Homo sapiens: one gene and its partner. The protein of the gene in region 1 purifies or fractionates together with the protein of each later gene. This does not show direct contact. Each region holds a gene or a part of one and is shown on either strand. Other genes may lie near its edges.

Region 1 (3,500 bases):
AACCTGTGGAGGTGTGTACCTTGTGGAGGTGTGGATCCTGTGGCAGTGTGTACCCTGTAGAGGTGTGTACCCTGTGGAGGTATGGATTCTGTGGAGATGTGTATCCTCTGGAGATGTGTACCCTTTGGAGCTATGGATCCTGTGGAGGTGTGTACCCTGTGGAGGTGTGTACCCTGTGGAGGTATGGATCCTGTGGAGATGTGTACCCTGTGGATGTAAGGATCCTGTGGAGGTGTGTACCCTGTGGAGATGTGTACCCTGTGGAGGTATGGATCCTGTGGAGGTGTGTATCCTGTGGAGTTATGGATCCTGTGGAGTTGTATACCCTGTGGAAGTATGGATCCTCTGGAGGTGTGTACCCCTGTGGAAATGTGTATACTTGTGGAGGGGTGTACACCTGTTGAGGAGGGTATACCTGTGGAAATGTGTACCCTGTGAAGGTATGGACACTGTAGAGATATGTTCACCTGTGGAAGTGTGTACCCTGTGGAGGTGTGTACGCCTGTGAAGGTATGTATATCTGTGGAGGTGTATACACCTGGGGAATGGTGTTCACCTTTGGAGGTATGTACACTGTGGAGGGGTGTACTCCTGTGAAAGTGTGTATACTTGTGGAGGGGTGTATACCTGTTGAGGAGTGTACACCTGTGGAGGTATATTCACCAATGGAACTGTATACCCTGTGGAGGTGTGTACACCTGTGGAAGTCTATACTTTTGGAGGGGTGTACACCTGTGGAGATGTGTAGCCTGTGGAGGTATGTTCATCTGTGGAAGTGTGTACCCTGTAGAAGCATGTACCACATGGAGGGGTGTACCTCTGTGAAGGGGTGTACACTTGTGGAAGTATGTTCACCTATGGAAGTATGTACCCTGTGGAAGTGTGTTCACCTGTGGAGGTATGTTCACCTGTGGAAGTGTATACACCTTTGGAAATGTGCACACCTGTGGAGGGTGTACCCTGTGGAGATGTGTACACCTATGAAGGGGTGTACTCTGTGGAGGTGTGTACCCTGTGGAGGTATGTACTCTGTACTCTTTGGAGGTATGTACCCTGTGGAAGTGTGTACCCTGTGGAGGTGTGTACCTCATAGAGGTGTGTACCCTGTGGAGATATGTACCCTGTAAAGGTGTATCTGGCCCACAGAGCTGTCAGCAGGGACCTCACCCCTCCTCTGCCTTTATGTGGGGCGCCCCTGAGGACATCCTCAAGGAGATCAGGAAGACTTGGCTGAGTTTTTACACCCCAGGAAGGAGGAGCTGTATTATCATCCCATTTTATAGATGAGGAAACTGAGACTCAGAGAAGTTAACCTGACTTGCCCAAGTTCACTCAGCTAGTATATTATGCTCCCCAGGATTCCAACCCGGGCTTCAAAGCCAGCATGCTGAACCATTACGCTACACGGCCCCACCTTGGTAACGCCTCAGCCTCCCTGCTCAAGCCTGAAAGGTGGGTGGGGGCGACGTTGGAGGTTTCCTTGGGAGGGTCTGTCCCTGCCTCCCCTGTGGGCAACTGAATCACAGGGACAGACAGGCCTGGGGCACCAAGGGTCCTCCCCAGGCTCTCTTCACGCTCCCTGCTGCCTCCCACCTGGCGGCCTCCTACCCACTCTTTATGAGTGAGGTGGGGACGGCTCAGTTCCACCTTAATGGTTTCTGTTGCTGGCTGCGGCAGCATGTTTTACGAGGGGTGGGGCTCGGCCGGCCGGGTGCTGGCCTGTAGCCCCACCCAGGGCTCCACCCGACAGGCTGCTGGGAGGGGTCCCCTGGAGCAGCTCGGCAATTATGGGGGTGGCAGGGAAGGACCTGGGGGCTCTGCCTGAGGCTTGGGCACCCAAGGAAACTCGGGGTCTGGGAATGCCAAGAAAGAGGGGGTTTCTAGCTCCTTTCTCCCCATCAATGTTGGAAGTTCTGAGGGCAAAATTCTGGCCTCCCTGGCTCTTAACCCAGCATCAGTTTCGGAAAATGGGTTGCGTGCCCCTGCCTTGAGATCTGACTCAAGTACAGAGCAGGTAGGGACAGAATGGGCAGGGAGGGGAGTGGGGAGAACAAAGGATGAAAAGCCACCATGTCCCCCAGGTGACGCTTTCCTCCATGTGAGCCACCGACACCTGCAGCTGAGTCATTCCAGTCCCCAAATCAGGCTTCTCCTAAAGACTCTTCAGCATTCCCATGTGCCTCTGGAAGCAGGCTGGTCCCAGAGCATTGCCTAGTACGCCCATCCTGGAAAAGCACTTGAGCCTTGGGCCGACCTGGAGGTTCTTCCAGATCTCTAATCCCTATTTATTGTAATCTTAGTCCTCTTGTCCTGTCCTTCCTGCCATTCACCAAGCCACCCACCAGAGCCTCTTTAAGGGCAATAGACTCATCCCTTCTGCAGGGAGGGTCCCAGCTTTGCTTCAGATGCCTGACTCCAACAGCAACCAGTCTCCCACTCTCCTTTGCCCAGCACCCCTTCCTTTTCGCCATCCCTGGCTGCCTCTGGGCACCTTCCCGTCTCTCCAGCCCCTCTCTAACCTCTGCCACCCAGCCATGGCCCCAAAGGAGCCAAATCCAAGCACTCACAGTGGGCTCTGGGTCATGGCCACCATCACCGCTTCGGGGAGTCATTCAGCCTGCAGCTCCCCAGGAGCCTCCATCGAGGTATAAATACTCCCACATGCCTGGACCGGCCCCCTGCCCGAGGGCTGAGGCGGGGCTGTCTCCCCAGGCCAGGCAGGCAGGTCACATGCCCCATAAATGCCACAGGACCACAGGCCCTTCCTAGCAGCCCTGGGGAGGCCAACTAGAGCCTGACCTCTCTGGATGGATGGGTGGATAGATAGATGTATTTATGTATGTAAAGATGAACAGTTGGATGAATGGACAGATCATCGGATGGAGAGATTGATGGATGGAAAGCTGGACAGATGGACAAATCAACAGACAGATAGATGAATGTTTTATTTTTTTATTTTAAGTATTTTTATTTCTGTGAGTATCTGTAGTGTAAAGGATGAATATTTAGTGGGATAGATGGATGGATGTCCTTGACCTACCCGTGAATGTTTATTCTGGTTTTTTTTGTTTGTTTGTTTGAGACAAAGTCTCACTCTGTCACCCAGGGTGGAGTGCAGTGGTGCAATCTTGGCTCACTGCAACCTCCACCTCCTGGGTTCAAGCGATTCTCCTGCCTCAGCCTCCCAAGAAGCTGGGATTACAGGCGGGCAGCACCAAGTCTGGTTAACTTTTGTATTTTTAGCAGAGATGGGGTTTTGCCATGTTGGCCAAGCTGGGGATGTTTATTTTGTAGATGGAAAGAAAGGGGTGTTTGGTTTCAAGGAAACAAGAAATGCTACCCCTCAAAGCTTCCATCCATTCCTTTCTGAGACATACCTACTAGGACCCCTTCTCTCCTCTGCTAGTCTGAGAGATCAGCCCTACTGGGTTCTTCCTACTCCTTAGATGCTCCTTGACAGAGACCTCCCACCTAAGCATCCTCGGCCTCCAGGGATCTTT
Region 2 (3,500 bases), on another chromosome or scaffold:
GCTGAGGCAGGCAGATCACGAGGTCAGGAGATCGAGACCATCCTGGCTAACATGGTGAAACCCCGTCTCTACTAAAAATACAAAAATATCCGGGCGAGATGGCAGGCGCCTGTAGTCCCAGCTACTCCGGAGGCTGAGGCAGGAGAATGGCGTGAACCCAGGGGGCGGAGCCTGCAGTGAGCCGAGATCATGCCACTGCACTCCAGCCTGGGCGACAGAGCAAGACTCAGTCTCAGAAAAAAAAAAAAAATTAGCTGGGCGTGTTGGCCCGTATCTGTAGTCCCAGCTACTCGGGAGGCTGAGGCAGGACAATCACTTGAACCCGGGAGGCGGAGGCTGCAGTGAGCTGAGATCACACCACTGCACTCCAGCCTGGAAGATGGAGCGAGACTCCATCTCAAATAAAAATAAAAATAAATAAAGAAAATAAGGAAAAAAAAACTTCAAAGCAGGGGAGGCTCAGGTTAGACATTAGAAAGAACTGCCAGCCTGGCCCACGACACAGTCCCCAGAGGAACCTGAAACCCAGCACAGGAGATCTCGTCCAATAGGCTAGATTCTATTCCTGAACCCCAGAAATCCATGCAGAAATCTCTGGGTTCTACTTGAATTCTAAGGGGGTTTGGCAGAGTTCTAGGCCCAGCAGCCCAGAATACGCCCGTCCACCTGGGTCCCCTGAGCAGAGACAGCTGGGCCTCACTCTTGCTCCCAGCGCCCGGGGTCAGAAGAAAGGGTAAGCTGCCCTTTGCCTTAATCGGGCAGAGTTCCTGCCTTGGGCAAACAAAAAGCATGGGTGAAGGGTGGAGGAGAAACAAATCAAATAAAAAAAAAAATCCTTGTTCAGAACGCGGTGGCCGCGCTAGCAGACAAGAGGTCACCAAGGTGTCAGGGCCAGGGAACTGGCCTCTGAGGCTGGAGTCGGGGGTAATTGGGGAAGGCAGCTCCTGCAAGAGAATGGGGCTGGGGAAAGTCCCTTGTGGGGCGTCCCTGGCCTCTTCAGCTCCACGGCAGCAACCAGGGGGCCACGGATCCTAATTGGATTCCTCCAGCCTAGGGCCAGACTGCAGCCCACGGGATCAAGGGATCAGTGGTAATGAGGTTAGCAGGCGCCGGCCCCCACCCTGTGAGGCACCCAGACCCCTGTGAAAGGGAGGGGTGAAAGGGAGGGGAAAAAGGGGAGGAAGAAGCTGTTTGTTCACCCCGGCTCCAGCGGCTGTGATCGTCCCCAGTGTGTCCCCAGCACGTACTCACCCTCCTTCCTCATGCCCACCCGGAAGCACTTCTTGAGACGGCAGTACTGGCACTGGTTCCGGTGGTGCTGGTCGATCTGGCAGTCACGGTTGGACCTGGGGGCACACAGAAGCCAGGGCTCCCTGAGACCCCCATATCCTCCTCCCCGAACCAGCCTATGAGCCGCCTTTGGAGGCTGCCCCTCAGAAATACTAGTAGGGGCCCTCTAGACTGGAGAGGTAGCCCCAAAGGGGTACAGGAGCTCAGCTTGCAGGTCTGCAAACCAGACAGGATAACCCGGATGAGTGGTGATGGATGAAGAGGAATCTGTGGAAAAGCAGATGAACACCCCAGGGAGGGCACATTGGCATGGGTTTTGAAGGATGAATAGGAGTTCTCCAGGTGAATGGCGGGGTGATCCCAGAGAGAGGGTACAGCCAGAGCAAAAGGGTTGAAATACACAAATATGGAGGCCTAAAGAGTTTCATTTTATTTGGTCACTGTCAGGCTGAGCAGGGTCATTGTCCCCAAAAAGATGTGAAGGCAAAGAGGACATGGTCAGAGAGCTGGACTTTGTGAATTAACTAGGGGTCAGGCCAGGGGCTAGTGGTCTGTGGGGTCATAGCATTGTGGGGCCCCAGCATTATCACCCGCACAATGCCCACCCCAAGGAATGAGGAAGTAAACAAAGTCACTCTGGTCCTCAGCCCTGAAGGCCCCACACCTACGCTCTTCCGAGAGGACCACCCAACCCCTATGCAAGCTGGAGATTTTCCTGGTCAGCCCTCAGTGAATGCCGTTGCCTCTTGCAGGGATGAGACAGGTGGCCCCACCCTGAGAGGTGGTGAGCTCCCCATCCTGGGTCAGCCCCCAAGCAGGAAGGTCCAGGCCTTATTCTTCAAATGTCCCCAGAACCTTCTCCCCTTGGCCCCTGCCCTTGGACTCCCCTGGTCTCTTGCCACCAGGAGCTGGGGGCTCTCCAAGGCCTGGGCCTGGAGCAACTACCCCTGGGGTTCCAGCTGGACACCCAGGGGACACACAGAGACAGTCACAGAGTAGAACCACCACTTAAGGGAATTAAACAGATGCATCTCTGCAGTGGCTCACGCCTGTAATCCCAGCACTTTGGGAGGCGGGGGAGGGTGGATCACCTGAGGTCAGTTCAAGACCAGCCTGGCCAACATGGTGAAACCCCGTCTCTACTAAAAATACAAAAATGAGCTGGGCGTGGTGGCGCATGCCTGTAATCCCAGCTACTTGGCAGGCTGAGGAAGGAGAATCGCTTGAACTGGGGAGGTGGAGGTTGCAGTGAGCCAAGATTGACCCACTGCATTCCAGCCAGGGTGACAGAGTGAGACTCTGTCTCAAAAAAAAAGAAAAAAAAAAAGGCTGGGTGCAGTGGCTCATGCCTGTAATCCCAGCACTTTGGGAGGCCGAGGCGGGCGGATCACCTGAGGTTGGGAGTTTGAGACCAGCCTGAACAACATAGAGAAAACCTGTCTCTACTAAAAATACAAAATTAGCCGGGCATGGTGGCGCATGCCTGTAATCCCAGCTATTTGGGAGGCTGAGGCAGGAGAACCGCTTGAACCCGGGAGGCAGAGGTTGCAGTGAGTTGAGATCACGCCATCGCACTCCAGCCTGGGCAACAAGAGTGAAACTCCGTCTCAAAAACAAAACAAAACAAAACAAAACAGATGAATCTCAGCTGCAGATACCCAGCCCTGCCCCTCAGGTGGCGACTGCCCCACTGAGCCTCGGTTTCCTCATCTGAAAATGGGAGGTCAGATATTGCCCTATCATATGGGATGGACTGGGTCAGAGGGGTTCACGGGGGACAGTGCCAAGACCCAGAGCCCAGCCGGAGAACCCAACTTAGGAAAGCTGAGGATCTGCGCCCACTCCCCCGTACCCCCCCTCCACCACTGCCTGGGTCCTGCAGCACCAGCCACTGAGCCCCTGGGAAGAGGCCCCACTAGGGCAGAGGGAGCTCAGGCAGAACCAGAACAAAGCCCAGCGGCTGGGTGGTGGGAGGGTCCAGGGCAGCCGGGTGGAAACGGCCTGGCCTGGGGCGGCCCTGCAGGCAGGCAGAGGCCCAGCTCAGGGGCCCCTGACCTCAGGGGAGGCCCTGAACCTTCAGTCTCAACTTCCCCAGCTGTGGAATTGGGACAGATCCATCCCTCCAAGGAGGGAAACAGTTAAGTTCTTCCTGTTATCCCACCTAAAGAGTGCAAGCTTTTTTGCCCAACCCCATGGCCCAACTCAGCTTC

Evidence for each region.
Region 2: the proteins of FOXN1 (region 1) and NR2F6 purify together in Homo sapiens (affinity purification with mass spectrometry; one large-scale study listed by BioGRID and IntAct). This does not show direct contact.

Annotation. Positions count from the first base shown.
Region 1 is NC_000017.11:28,512,848-28,516,347, reverse strand, and holds part of FOXN1 (forkhead box protein N1), read right to left. Parts: intron 1-3,500. UniProt on the Homo sapiens protein: Transcriptional regulator which regulates the development, differentiation, and function of thymic epithelial cells (TECs) both in the prenatal and postnatal thymus.
Region 2 is NC_000019.10:17,239,420-17,242,919, forward strand, and holds part of NR2F6 (nuclear receptor subfamily 2 group F member 6), read right to left. Parts: intron 1,347-3,500; coding exon 1,252-1,346; intron 1-1,251. UniProt on the Homo sapiens protein: Transcription factor predominantly involved in transcriptional repression.